2 separate regions of the Homo sapiens genome follow, and region 2 is linked to region 1. The links come from fine-mapping of genetic effects on gene expression. A gene starts in region 1. The other region holds a variant in brackets. All regions are shown on one strand. Distances are from middle to middle.

Region 1 (5,368 bases):
AGAAGTCTCCCTGGGGCCTGAACACTGAGTTCAAGATAAGAAATGTTTATAACTCTGTGCTGGCAGCCAAGAGCTGGATCCCAGTTGCAGATGGGGCTATGCGTAGCAGTGAGAGTGGGAGACACAGAGACAGGGACTGAGAGAGAGAGAGAGAGAGATGGGATCAGGGATAAGGGCAGTACTGCCAGGCACTGGGCTGGGTGCTTTCTGTTCATCACATTTAACTTCACAATGCCCCTCACACAACTGTTTTCTCCCCCATGGTACAGATATAAAAAGTGAAGCTCTGAGAGATGAAATGATGCTTGCGAGTCTTGTGCACTGGCTGTCTGATGCCAAAGCTTGCAGTCTCAACCATGATATCATGTGCCTGTCCCACTGGAGGCTGGATGGGGGGCTGAGAGAGCTGGACCATGAAACCCTTGCCCAGCTGGGTCCTCTCTTTGTCTCTGGAAAGTGGGGAGGGCCCCCAGCTGCTGTCTACATGCAGTGACGAAGAGGGGGTGAGTCCTCAGCCCTGCTCCTGTCCTGCCCACATCTGGGTCACACTGGGGATGACAGATGTCCAGTGTGGCTGGCCAAGAATGAATGCCGGTGGACAGGAAGAGAATATGAATGCCTGTGGCTGGTGGCAGGGTGACTCATCTCGGGCCTTCGGTCACAGCCTCAAATTCCTGTGCCAGAGCCTGGCCCTCCTGTCATTAGTCCTAAGACTGGTCATGCAATGCAGGAGGGATGGATGGGTACAGGAGGCTAGAGGTTCTGACCCCAGCTGTCCCCTCCAGAAGCCTCAGTTCCGCCGCAGCCCTGAGCGTGAGGTGGGGGTGGAGGGCAGTTAGGGCAGGACTGTAGGTAATGCCCCTCTCCAGCAAAGCCAACACGTCAGGAATAGATGGGACCCCCTGTCTGCTTCTCAGCTCTCCTGACCTTCCCCGGGACTTAGGACCTGACCCTGCCTTGCTCTGGGCCTCCATCTACAAAGTGTCTATGTGATGAGGCAGTCAGCCCAGGTATTCACTAAGGCCTGAAGCTCCCATGCCCTGGGATTCCTGCCCAGAGAAAGGAGGCAGCCCTGCTCCCAGCTCCCCTACCCCTCCAGGCAAGGCAAAAGCAAGGACTGCAGCAGAATGGGGAAGCTCAGTTGAACATGAACCACCCAACCAATCCAGGTGCTTCTCAGGTGACATTTGGAATCCTGACAGCAATGTCACCTGTTTTACAACACCACCAGTCATTCTGCAGTTGAGGACACTGAGCCACAAAGAGGGCAGAGGCCTGACCCCAAAGCTCACATACTCTGCATTCCTCCAGGTCTCACGGAGAAGGGGGAGGGCTTCCTGGTCCACTCCAGCTGGGGGCGCTATGGCCCGGCAGACCAGGGTCCTCCAGTGAGGAGCTCTGGACCAAGGTCTAACTTGGCTCCATGTACTGCTGTGGGCTTGCTCCACCCAGTGCCAGGGGTAGGTCAAGGTCAAGGGGCCTCTTAGGCATCTCCTAAGGGCATGCTACTATCCAAATGTTTGTGTCCCCACTAAAGGTCATCTGTTGAAATCCTACACCTTAAGGTGATGATCTTTGGAGGCGGGGGCCTTTGGAAGGTGATTTGATGAGAGGGTGGCACCCTTATGAATGGGATTGGTGCCCTTATCAAAGAGGCCCAGAGGTGAGGATGTGGCAAGATGGCACCTTCTACGAGCCATACCTCTCACCAGGGACCAAATCTGCTGGTATCTTGAACTTGGGCTTTCCAGCCTCCAGAACTGTGAGACAGAGAAATAAGCCAGGCGAAGTGGCTCACCCCTGTAATCCCAGCATTTTGGGAGGCTGAGGTGGGTGATGACTTGAGGTCAGGAGTTCTAGACTAGCCTGGCCAACATGGTGAAACCCCATCTCTACTAAAAATACAAAAAATTAGTCAGGCATGGTGGCGCATGCTTGTAATCCCAGCTACTCGTGAGGCTGAGGCAGGAGAATCCCTTGAACCCGGGAGGAAGAGGCTGCAGTGGGCCAAGATCGTGCCATTGCACTCCAGCCTGGGGGGAAAAAGATAGAAATAAATCTCTTGTTTGTAAGCCCCTCCGCTTTAAGGTGTTTTGTTTTCGCACCTGAACGGACTAAGGGACTAAGGGACCAGGAATCATCCAGGCCTCAGCTTCCCAAAGCACTCCCCACTCCCCAGTTCCTACAGGGCCCCGACCCCAGCCCCAGCACCCGTCATTCACATTTTTTACTTACAAAGGAAACTTTGAAATGGACACTTCCTGTTACTTTCATTCAATGAAAAAAATCCCCAGCACTTGAAGGCAATCATACAGAAAGCCTGCAACAACGCAGAGAGTAGACTCTTCAGGTGGTGGTGCCTGCTTTAGGCTGGCTCTCCCCGGGTCAAAAGGGACGTGATAAAGTGTTAAAGTGATGTTAAGGATCAAGTGGGCACCAACTGCGACTCCCCTCCCACCCCCCGACTTAACAGATGTCAAGGAAAACAGAAGGAAGCCGTTTCTCTCCAGGACATGCAGTGTCTGCTGGAGTTTTGGAAAAATGCTTTCTCTCGAGTCGCTGCGGGGAGCTCCCAGGCTGGACCCCCCCGCACAGGTCCTCCGCCATCGCCCTCCCAGCCCCCGCCCCCAATCCCCCTCCCAGACCCGGTCCCCGCCCCCATCCCCCGCCAGACGTCGTCCCCACCCCCATCCCCCTCCAAGCCCCGCCCGGGAGGGCGTCCTGCCCGCTCATTGGGCCTCCCGCCGGCTCATTTGCATGGTCCGAGGGGGGCGGGGCTGACGTCGCGCTGGGAATGCCCTGGCCGAGACACTGAGGCAGGGTAGAGAGCGCTTGCGGGCGCCGGGCGGAGCTGCTGCGGATCAGGACCCGAGCCGATTCCCGATCCCGACCCAGATCCTAACCCGCGCCCCCGCCCCGCCGCCGCCGCCATGTACGACGCAGAGCGCGGCTGGAGCTTGTCCTTCGCGGGCTGCGGCTTCCTGGGCTTCTACCACGTCGGGGCGACCCGCTGCCTGAGCGAGCACGCCCCGCACCTCCTCCGCGACGCGCGCATGTTGTTCGGCGCTTCGGCCGGGGCGTTGCACTGCGTCGGCGTCCTCTCCGGTATCCCGCTGGGTGCGTCTGGGGACGCTGCCCGGGCTCCACGTGCGGAGTGGGTGCCCCCTAGGCCGGGGAGCGGGGGATCCCCAGGGGTCGCGGGGCCCTGGAGGAGCGGGCATCGGACGCGGACACGGCGGGGTGCATCCCGAGGGCCCCCTCCGAGGCAGATGCTTCCTGCGGGGGCGCTGTTCCTGGGCCCGGGAAGGGGGCGTTGGAACCCCGAGCGGTCCGGGCCGAAGCCTGGGACTCTCGTGCGTCCCCACCCCTACCCCCATCAGGCGCCCGTGCATGAAGGGAGACCCTCACCTCCGGACTGAGAGTCGGAGCGTCTCGGAGCGACGGGGAGTAGGGAGCGGGACCCGGGGCGGAGGGTAGTGCTGGCCCCTGCGGACTCCGGGTCCCCTGTGTCCTCTCGGGAGGGGCTGGACGGGCTGAGCTGCCGAGGGGCCGATTTGCCCTGGGCCGGACAAAGAGTGGGGCTTTGGCCGGTCCCCCACGGTGGGCTCCTTCCCTCTGGGGATTGAGGGACTCAAGACACCCCGCGCCTGCGCTTTTCTTTTCTTTTTTTCTTTTTTTTTTTTTGAGACGGAGTTTCGCTCAGTCGCCCAGGCTGGAGTGCAGTGGCGTGATCTCAACTCACTGCAAGCTCCACCTCCCAGGTTCACGCCATTCTCCTGCCTCAGCCTCCCGAGTAGCTGGGACTACAGGCGCCAGCCACCAAGCCCGGCTAATTTTTTGTATTTTTTAGTAGAGACGGGGTTTCACCGTGTTAGCCAGGATGGTCTCGATCTCCTGACCTCGTGATCTGCCCACCTCGGCCTCCCAGAATGCTGGGGTTACAGGCGTGAGCCACTGCTCCCTGCTGCCTACGCTCTCTGGGTCGCAGCCCAGCCTTCTGGGGGCTGGGTAGCCTCCCAGAAGGGCAACCCTGGGCATCCTCCAGGGCAGGCTAACTGGAGTCTAGTGGGGAGGGGTACCTTGAAAGAGGAAAGTTGTTTCCTCCTCCTCCTCCTCCTCCAGTGTTTGGGACCCTTCCTGGGGGCTGGAGTGCATCCCTGGACACCCCCCAATCCCATCCTCTTCTCTAGTTTCCACTGACCTAGGCCCACCCTCCCCTCTCCGGCTCAGTACTCCTGGAAATGAGATTCCGTACATTTGAATCTTGTCCTAATGAAATATTTGTCCATGTGGGTACCTGTGTGTGTGTGGTGGGGGTGCAGACGGAGGGTTTGTTTCTCACTAGCTGGAACTACTGGGGTGTGGTATGCTTCCTGGGAATTTGTGTGCCACAGTCCTGGAGGCGAGGAGGGGGTTGTGAGCCAGTAGGCAGGGGCTGGGGCAAGTAGCATTGTGAAGCTATTGACACCCAGACGTCCCCAGGCAGGAGATTATGCCCCCATTAGCCCCCTTTTATCTGGGCTTCCTTAACAATGGACTCTTTGCCCTGCCTGCCAGAGCCAGCAGGGAGTGACTGTTCAGTGGTGAGGAAGCGGGCAGAGGAAGCCCTGCCATTGGGTAGGAGCAGTGGGCAGCCCCTGGGCTGACTGGGAGGTGGGGATTAGGGATTAGACAGTCCTGGCTGTCTGCCTTCCCCTAAGCCAGGGGGAGAGGAGCAAAGGGCACGAAATGTGGCCTCCAGGAGGATTAGACCGCCACATGATCATTTGCACACCCTGGGGTTTAGCAACAATAAAAGTCAGCTTTTTTGTATCCCAAGGTGGCCTGTGGACACCCACATGGACAAATGTTTACACTGGGACAGAATTCAAATGCAGAGGTCCCAGGAGCCTAAAGTACACTCACTCTGGTATAGAAAGGATTCCTTACTGGGCAGAGGACAGGTGCAGCCTGGGGCTTTCCCAGGCAGGACACAGGGAGGCTCAGGAACCACCAAGTCCCTGGAAGGTGGATCTGGAGGCGTTGGCAGGAGCCACTCCCTGGGTTCCAGGGCTCCAGGTTCCTGCTTTAACCCCCTGTCTCACAGAGGGCTGTGCACTTGGGGGCTGCTGAGCATGTCCCAGAGGCTGCATCCTGGACACAGCACCTCAGTGCATCTGAGCTGAGGCTAACTTGGCAGGAGGGACAGGCAGAACCTGCCAGCCACGTGCAATTCCACCCCTCTGGCCACTCAGGGAAGGAGAGCTGTGAGTCAAGATCAGATTTGGGTCAGGACAGGCTGGGGCCTGCCTGTCCCTGTGCATCCCAAGATTTATGGCTGGCCAGGGGTTGGGCTGGGAGGGGTGGTCTTGCATGCCAGGAGAGTGCA
Region 2 (5,368 bases), 32 kb after region 1:
CCTCTGGAGTAGCTGGGACTACAGGTGCTTGCTACTATGCCCAGCTATTTTTTTTATTTTTTATTTTTATTTTGTAGTGATGGGGTGTGTTTCCTAGGCTGATCTTGAACTCCTGGGCTCAAGCAATCCTCCTGCCTCGGCCTCCCAAAGTGCTGAGATTATAGGTATGAGCCATTGCACTCAGCCTGGATTGTATTAAGGAAACTAGCTTAGTCACTAAACTGCACTTCTACTTCTGATTGGACAAGATTGGCACTTTGTAAACCAGGTTTTCTGGGATGCTGGTTTCCTTGAAGATGTTTCTAGCTGGTATTATCATATAGGATAGGCTGAGTTATGCTGCATTAACAAGCAAAACCCAAAAGGTTTATTTCTCATTCGTGCTGTATGTCCAGCAAATGTGGCTGGGCTTCATTTTAAGTCGTCCTCACTCCCAGACCTAGCCTGTAGGTGCCCCACCATTGGGGGATCGCTGATTGCCATGGCATGGTTAGAGAAATATGGTTCTTAAAGGTTCTCATCCAGAGTGGCACATCTCTCTTCTGCTCACAATGTGTTGACCAAAGCAAGTCACATGGATGGGAGCAGGGAGATGCAATCCTCTCTTGTGCCCAAAAGAGGAGCACAAGAAATACTGTTGAATAGCATTGCCAGAGGCCACAGAAAAATCTCCAAAACCAAAAATCTCTATGACCCAATAAATTCAAGAAATACTGGGTTAAAGAGAAGGAAACCAGTATATGCACTGTGAGACTTCTCAGTCTTTATTATATACATTGTAACCATCACAGACAGCCTTTAATATATACATCTTAACTATCACAGACAGCCTTCAGTATATTATATACATTATAACCATCACAGACAGCCTTCAATATATTATATACATTATAACCATCACAGACAGCCTTTAATATATACATTATAACTATCACAGCCTTTAATATATTATGTACATTGTAACTATCACAGCCTTTAATATATTATATACATTGTAACTACCACCGCCTTTAATATAGTATACCCATTGTAACTATCACAGCCTTTAATATACACATTGTTAACTACCACAGACAGCCTTTAATATATTATATACATTGTAACTATCACAGATAGCCTTTAATATATACATTGTAACTATCGCAGACAGCCCTTTGTTTGAGGGTAAAGCATGTGACTTTGTTTTCCTCCTGTTCCCTCTGCCATCCTCCAGGGCCTCACACACAATAGGCTCTCAAATATTGCAACCATCTTGCACTCTGCAGGGCAACCTCATGGCTTATCCTTTACAAGTGGCATACTCAGAAGAATAACGAGGAAGAAAGTGTAAGAAAAGAGGGCTGTTTGGGCAAAGAAAATCTGGTTGATTCGATGTTTACAGAGTGCCAGGCCCCATGCTTGATCTCATGAGGTCCTCAGACCTTATGCCTTAGGCTATCATTTCCATTTTACAGATAAGGAATTGAGGCTCAGGGAACTGAGAGTGAGGGAAGGGCAGGGGCCTGGCTGGTGCTGGGTTCTGTCTCTTTCCAGGCAAGAAGGGACATGTGGACTTGAATATTTAGCTCAGGGATGTTGGAGGCCTAGGGTGCTGCTATTTAAATGGAAAGGGTGTCAGGGTTTCTGGGAGGGAGTAAGGGGACAGAAGAAAAGATGCTTCTGTTATCAGAAGGGAGTGGCAACGTGACAGGATACTGAAGCTTCCTCTTTTCTTATTCTGTCTCGTTTCTTTCAATATACTTATCACAATGTGTGGCTGATATTTATTATGCCTTTTTCTTTTCTATTCTCTTTTCTTTTTTGGGGCAGGGGAGCTGTTTTGCCACCAAAACCTAAGCCCATGGCCGTCTTCTTCACCGATATGACTGGTTCTCATGCAAGCACCTAGATGGCCCTCGCCCATAATTACTGGCTGCAGTTGAGTGAATAGCGGTCATTATCTAGCGCCCACCGTGTGCCCGGCCCGGTGCCGGGAGCTTTGCTTTCCGTCTCTCACATTAGGCCCTTTTAATCCAACCCCCAAGAAGGAGACACGACCATCGTCTTCATTTTGACGATTTTGAGTGGGGGTTCCAATGACTTGAACGAAAGGAGCCAGGGCACCAATCCGGGTTTGTGTAGCAGATGCCGGTGAGACCCGACTACTGCAGCTCGGGGGTGGCCGGACCCGGGGTCTCCCCGCTGAGTCTCGGGGCTTCACCGGCGCGTGGGCACAAGCACAGCACCCTCGGGTCGGGGGTGCTAGGAGGGCTAAGAGCAGCAGGACTTGAGTGACACCCAACAGCTGGTCTGATCTCTTTCAGGCGCCAACGCCAGACGCCAGCCTCCCAGCGGACCCTCTCGCAGACCCACCTTCACCCCACGCGCCCTCCCCACACAGTCCACGCGCCAGCAGCTTCGCGGATGTCAGTGAACGCTCTTCGCTTGCGCAGTCAGAACGTCCTCCGCGGCCGTGTGAACATCCGGGTCACAGGCGCATAAGGACCAATGAGCGAAGGCATCGCGAGCCAGGGGGCGCGGAGAAGGCGGGGAATCATGGCCGCCCCCAGTGTTCCGCGTCCGGGGGTTTGTGGGAG[T/C]TGCCTTGACCTGCAGCTCCGCCACCGCGGACCCGCCTTCTGCCCTCAGCAGCAGACGCTCTGTCCCGCCCGGGCAGCTCTGCGAGGCAGCGGCTGGAGAGGGAACCATGGGGACTGTGCACGCCCGGGTAAGAGGCCCAGCGACCCGCGGGCTGCGAGGCCTCTGGGCCAGCAGGGCAGACGGGCGCCGCGGGGAGACGCTCTCGTGGCTGCGCCCAGGGTTCACCGGGAGAGAGGGTGCCAAGGGTGCCGGGCTGGGTGGAGGAGGCCGAAAAGAGGTCGCCTCGGGCCAGCGAGTCTTGCAGACCTTCGAGCAGGAACCTGATAGGAGGGACGAGACTTGGCTAAAGGTCACTCGGCGAGTCCGTGGCCCAAAGGACTTGCCAACTTTCTGTGATGTCTTAGACCGCAGTGAATGTGCTCTTTCTTTGCATGATTTTAAGTTTTCTCTCTTTACTGGTCACTTCCAGCCTTTCCCCGCTCAGCCGCTGCTGGAGCCATTGTAGGCTCCTAGAGCAACAAGAATCCTTTGAAGTCTTCTAACTCAAACCTATCTAGGGGTCCTCTTTTCTCCTGTCTACCGTGCAAAAGACGGAACCGCTCTCTGCCTTACTTCCTGTTTTAAAGTGGAGGTAGTAATAGTACCTACCTCGCCTGGCTTAAAAGAGAATTAAAAGACAATGCATGTGAATACTTGGGTGCCTGGCGCCTGACTAACTGTACTGGTTGCCAAACTCCTCTCGTTTATCCTAATCTTAAATAAGGGCCAGATAATGAGTTACTTCTCCAAGGTCACATAGTTACTGGTTCCAAATGGCCTAAAACCTCAGATTTCCTGAGTCTCAGCCCCAACACTACTTTTCTACTGCAACTTTGATTGCTTCACTTGACCTGCATAGACGTTTTCAGTAGTTCCCCATTAACTTCCAAAAAAATTTAGCACAGAAGTCGCAGCCTGACATCGATAATTGGACTTAACTTCCCTTTATATGTCTTTCATTCAGATCAAACACCGTTTCTCTTCTGACATCTCTTTGTGTAACTGTAATAGGTCTGTTGCTCAGTGTGCTCGATAAGTCAATACACTCAGACAGTGGGTTGCAGCAGAGAAAGAGTTTCAGTTGCAGGGCCGCTGAACGAGGAGATGGGAAAAGAGAGGAAACCTCAAATCCATCTCCTTCAGGAGTTTGGACCTCATGTTTTTGCTGAAGTGTGGAGATCCTTGATTGGTGGAAGAGTGAAGGGTGAAGTTATGGGACAGGGAGATGAGGAAACTTCTCATGCTGATTCCGTTCCTCTGTTGCGGGGAGGAGTCTTCAAACTGGTTGGCAGCATCAGTTTTGCTGGAATTCGAGATCTGAAAAACATCTAAAGCAACTCTTAAGCAAAAGCCTTATGATTCTAATTTTAGAAATCCTATCTGTAAAATCAATGGGGATGCAAATAGTATCTGTGACTTTTGGTTACTAGCAAGTAGGTCAGAGTGCAACCTGAGCTCTTCCTGCCATCTTGGCTCCTGTGGCGGCCTGCCGGGAGCAGGACTTCTGAAAGGAAATATGTCTGGAAGGCTGTGGTCCAAGGCCATTTTTGCTGGCTATAAGTGGAGTCTCCGGAACCAAAGGGAGCACACAGCTCTTCTTAAAATTGAAGGTGTTTATGCCCGAGATGAAACAGAATTCTATTTGGGCTCATGTATACAAAGCAAAGAACAACATAGTGACTCCTGGCGGCAAATCAAACAAAGCCAGAGTAATCTGGGGAAAGGTAACTCGGGCCCACAGAAACAATGGCATGATTCGTGCCAAATTCTGAAGCAATCTTCCTGCTAAGGCTGTTGGACACAGAATCCGAGTAATGCTGTACCCCTCAAGGATTTAAACTAATGAAAAGTCAATAAATCAATGTGGATTTGTGCTCTTGAAAAAAAAAAGGCAACTTGATTAATGGTTAATTGTAACTACATTTCTTTTGAGATGGAGTCTCACTGTGTTGCCCAGGCTGGAGTGCAATGGTGCAATCTCCACTCACTGCAACCTCCGCCTCCCAGGTTCAAGCGATTCTCCTGCCTCAGCCTCCCATGTAGCTGGGATTATAGGCGCACGCCACCACACCCAGCCAATTTTTGTATTTTTAGTAGAGACGGGGGTTTCATCATGTTGGCCAGGCTGGTCTTGAACTCCTGACCTCAAGTGATCATCCCGCCTCGGCCTCCCAAAGTGCTGAGATTACAGGTGTGAGCCACTGCGCCCAGCCAATTATAACTACATTTCTGTCCAGATGTCCAGAATAATTTTTTTTGTTGTTGTTGAGACAGAGTCTTGCTCTGTGCCCAGGCTGGAGTGCAGTGGCACGGTCTTGGCTCACTGCAAGCTCCACCTCCCAGATTCACACCATTCTCCTGCTTCAGCCTCCTGAATAGCTGGGACCACAGGCGCCTGCCACCATGTTCGGCTAATTTTTTGTATTAGTAGAGACGGGGTTTCACTGTTAGCTAGGATGGTCTCGATCTCCTGACCTTGTGATCCGCCTGCCTCGGCCTTCCAAAGTGCTGAGATTACAGGCATGAGTCACCACGCCTGGCCTTTGTCCAGAATTCTTGTTAGCCCTGTGAGGATGGCTTTATTTGGACCGCACTATTGCACTTCATTCCCCCTCCCATCATCCATCTTTAGCATCAAAATATTCCCATCTTTTAGAACTCCGTTCTGAAAGTTCTTTATCCCCTGCATTTGGATGGGCTTCGCCTTTCCGTGCCATTTCCTTTGGTGCCATTTACATTTTGGCTTGTTTTG

Evidence for each region. PIP is the estimated chance that this variant, and not a neighbour inherited with it, causes the effect.
Region 2: its variant is the best candidate, but not a certain one, in a credible set for the expression of PNPLA3 in blood mononuclear cells (TOPMed, PIP 0.62).

Annotation. Positions count from the first base shown.
Region 1 is chr22:43,920,982-43,926,349 of GRCh38, forward strand. PNPLA3 (patatin like domain 3, 1-acylglycerol-3-phosphate O-acyltransferase) reads left to right here and starts at 2,824. Exons shown (of 9, transcript NM_025225.3): 1 at 2,824-3,117. The coding sequence starts at 2,931. RefSeq lists enhancers at 722-1,222, 2,639-3,383, 3,384-4,126.
Region 2 is chr22:43,952,895-43,958,262 of GRCh38, forward strand. It overlaps SAMM50 (SAMM50 sorting and assembly machinery component), which reads left to right and starts at 2,548. Exons shown (of 15, transcript NM_015380.5): 1 at 2,548-2,704. The coding sequence starts at 2,684. It also overlaps the pseudogene RPL35AP36. RefSeq lists enhancers at 1,773-2,525, 2,193-2,242, 2,323-2,402, 2,526-3,277, 3,083-3,292 and a silencer at 2,366-2,640. The variant T/C (reference allele first, on the strand shown) is at 2,577.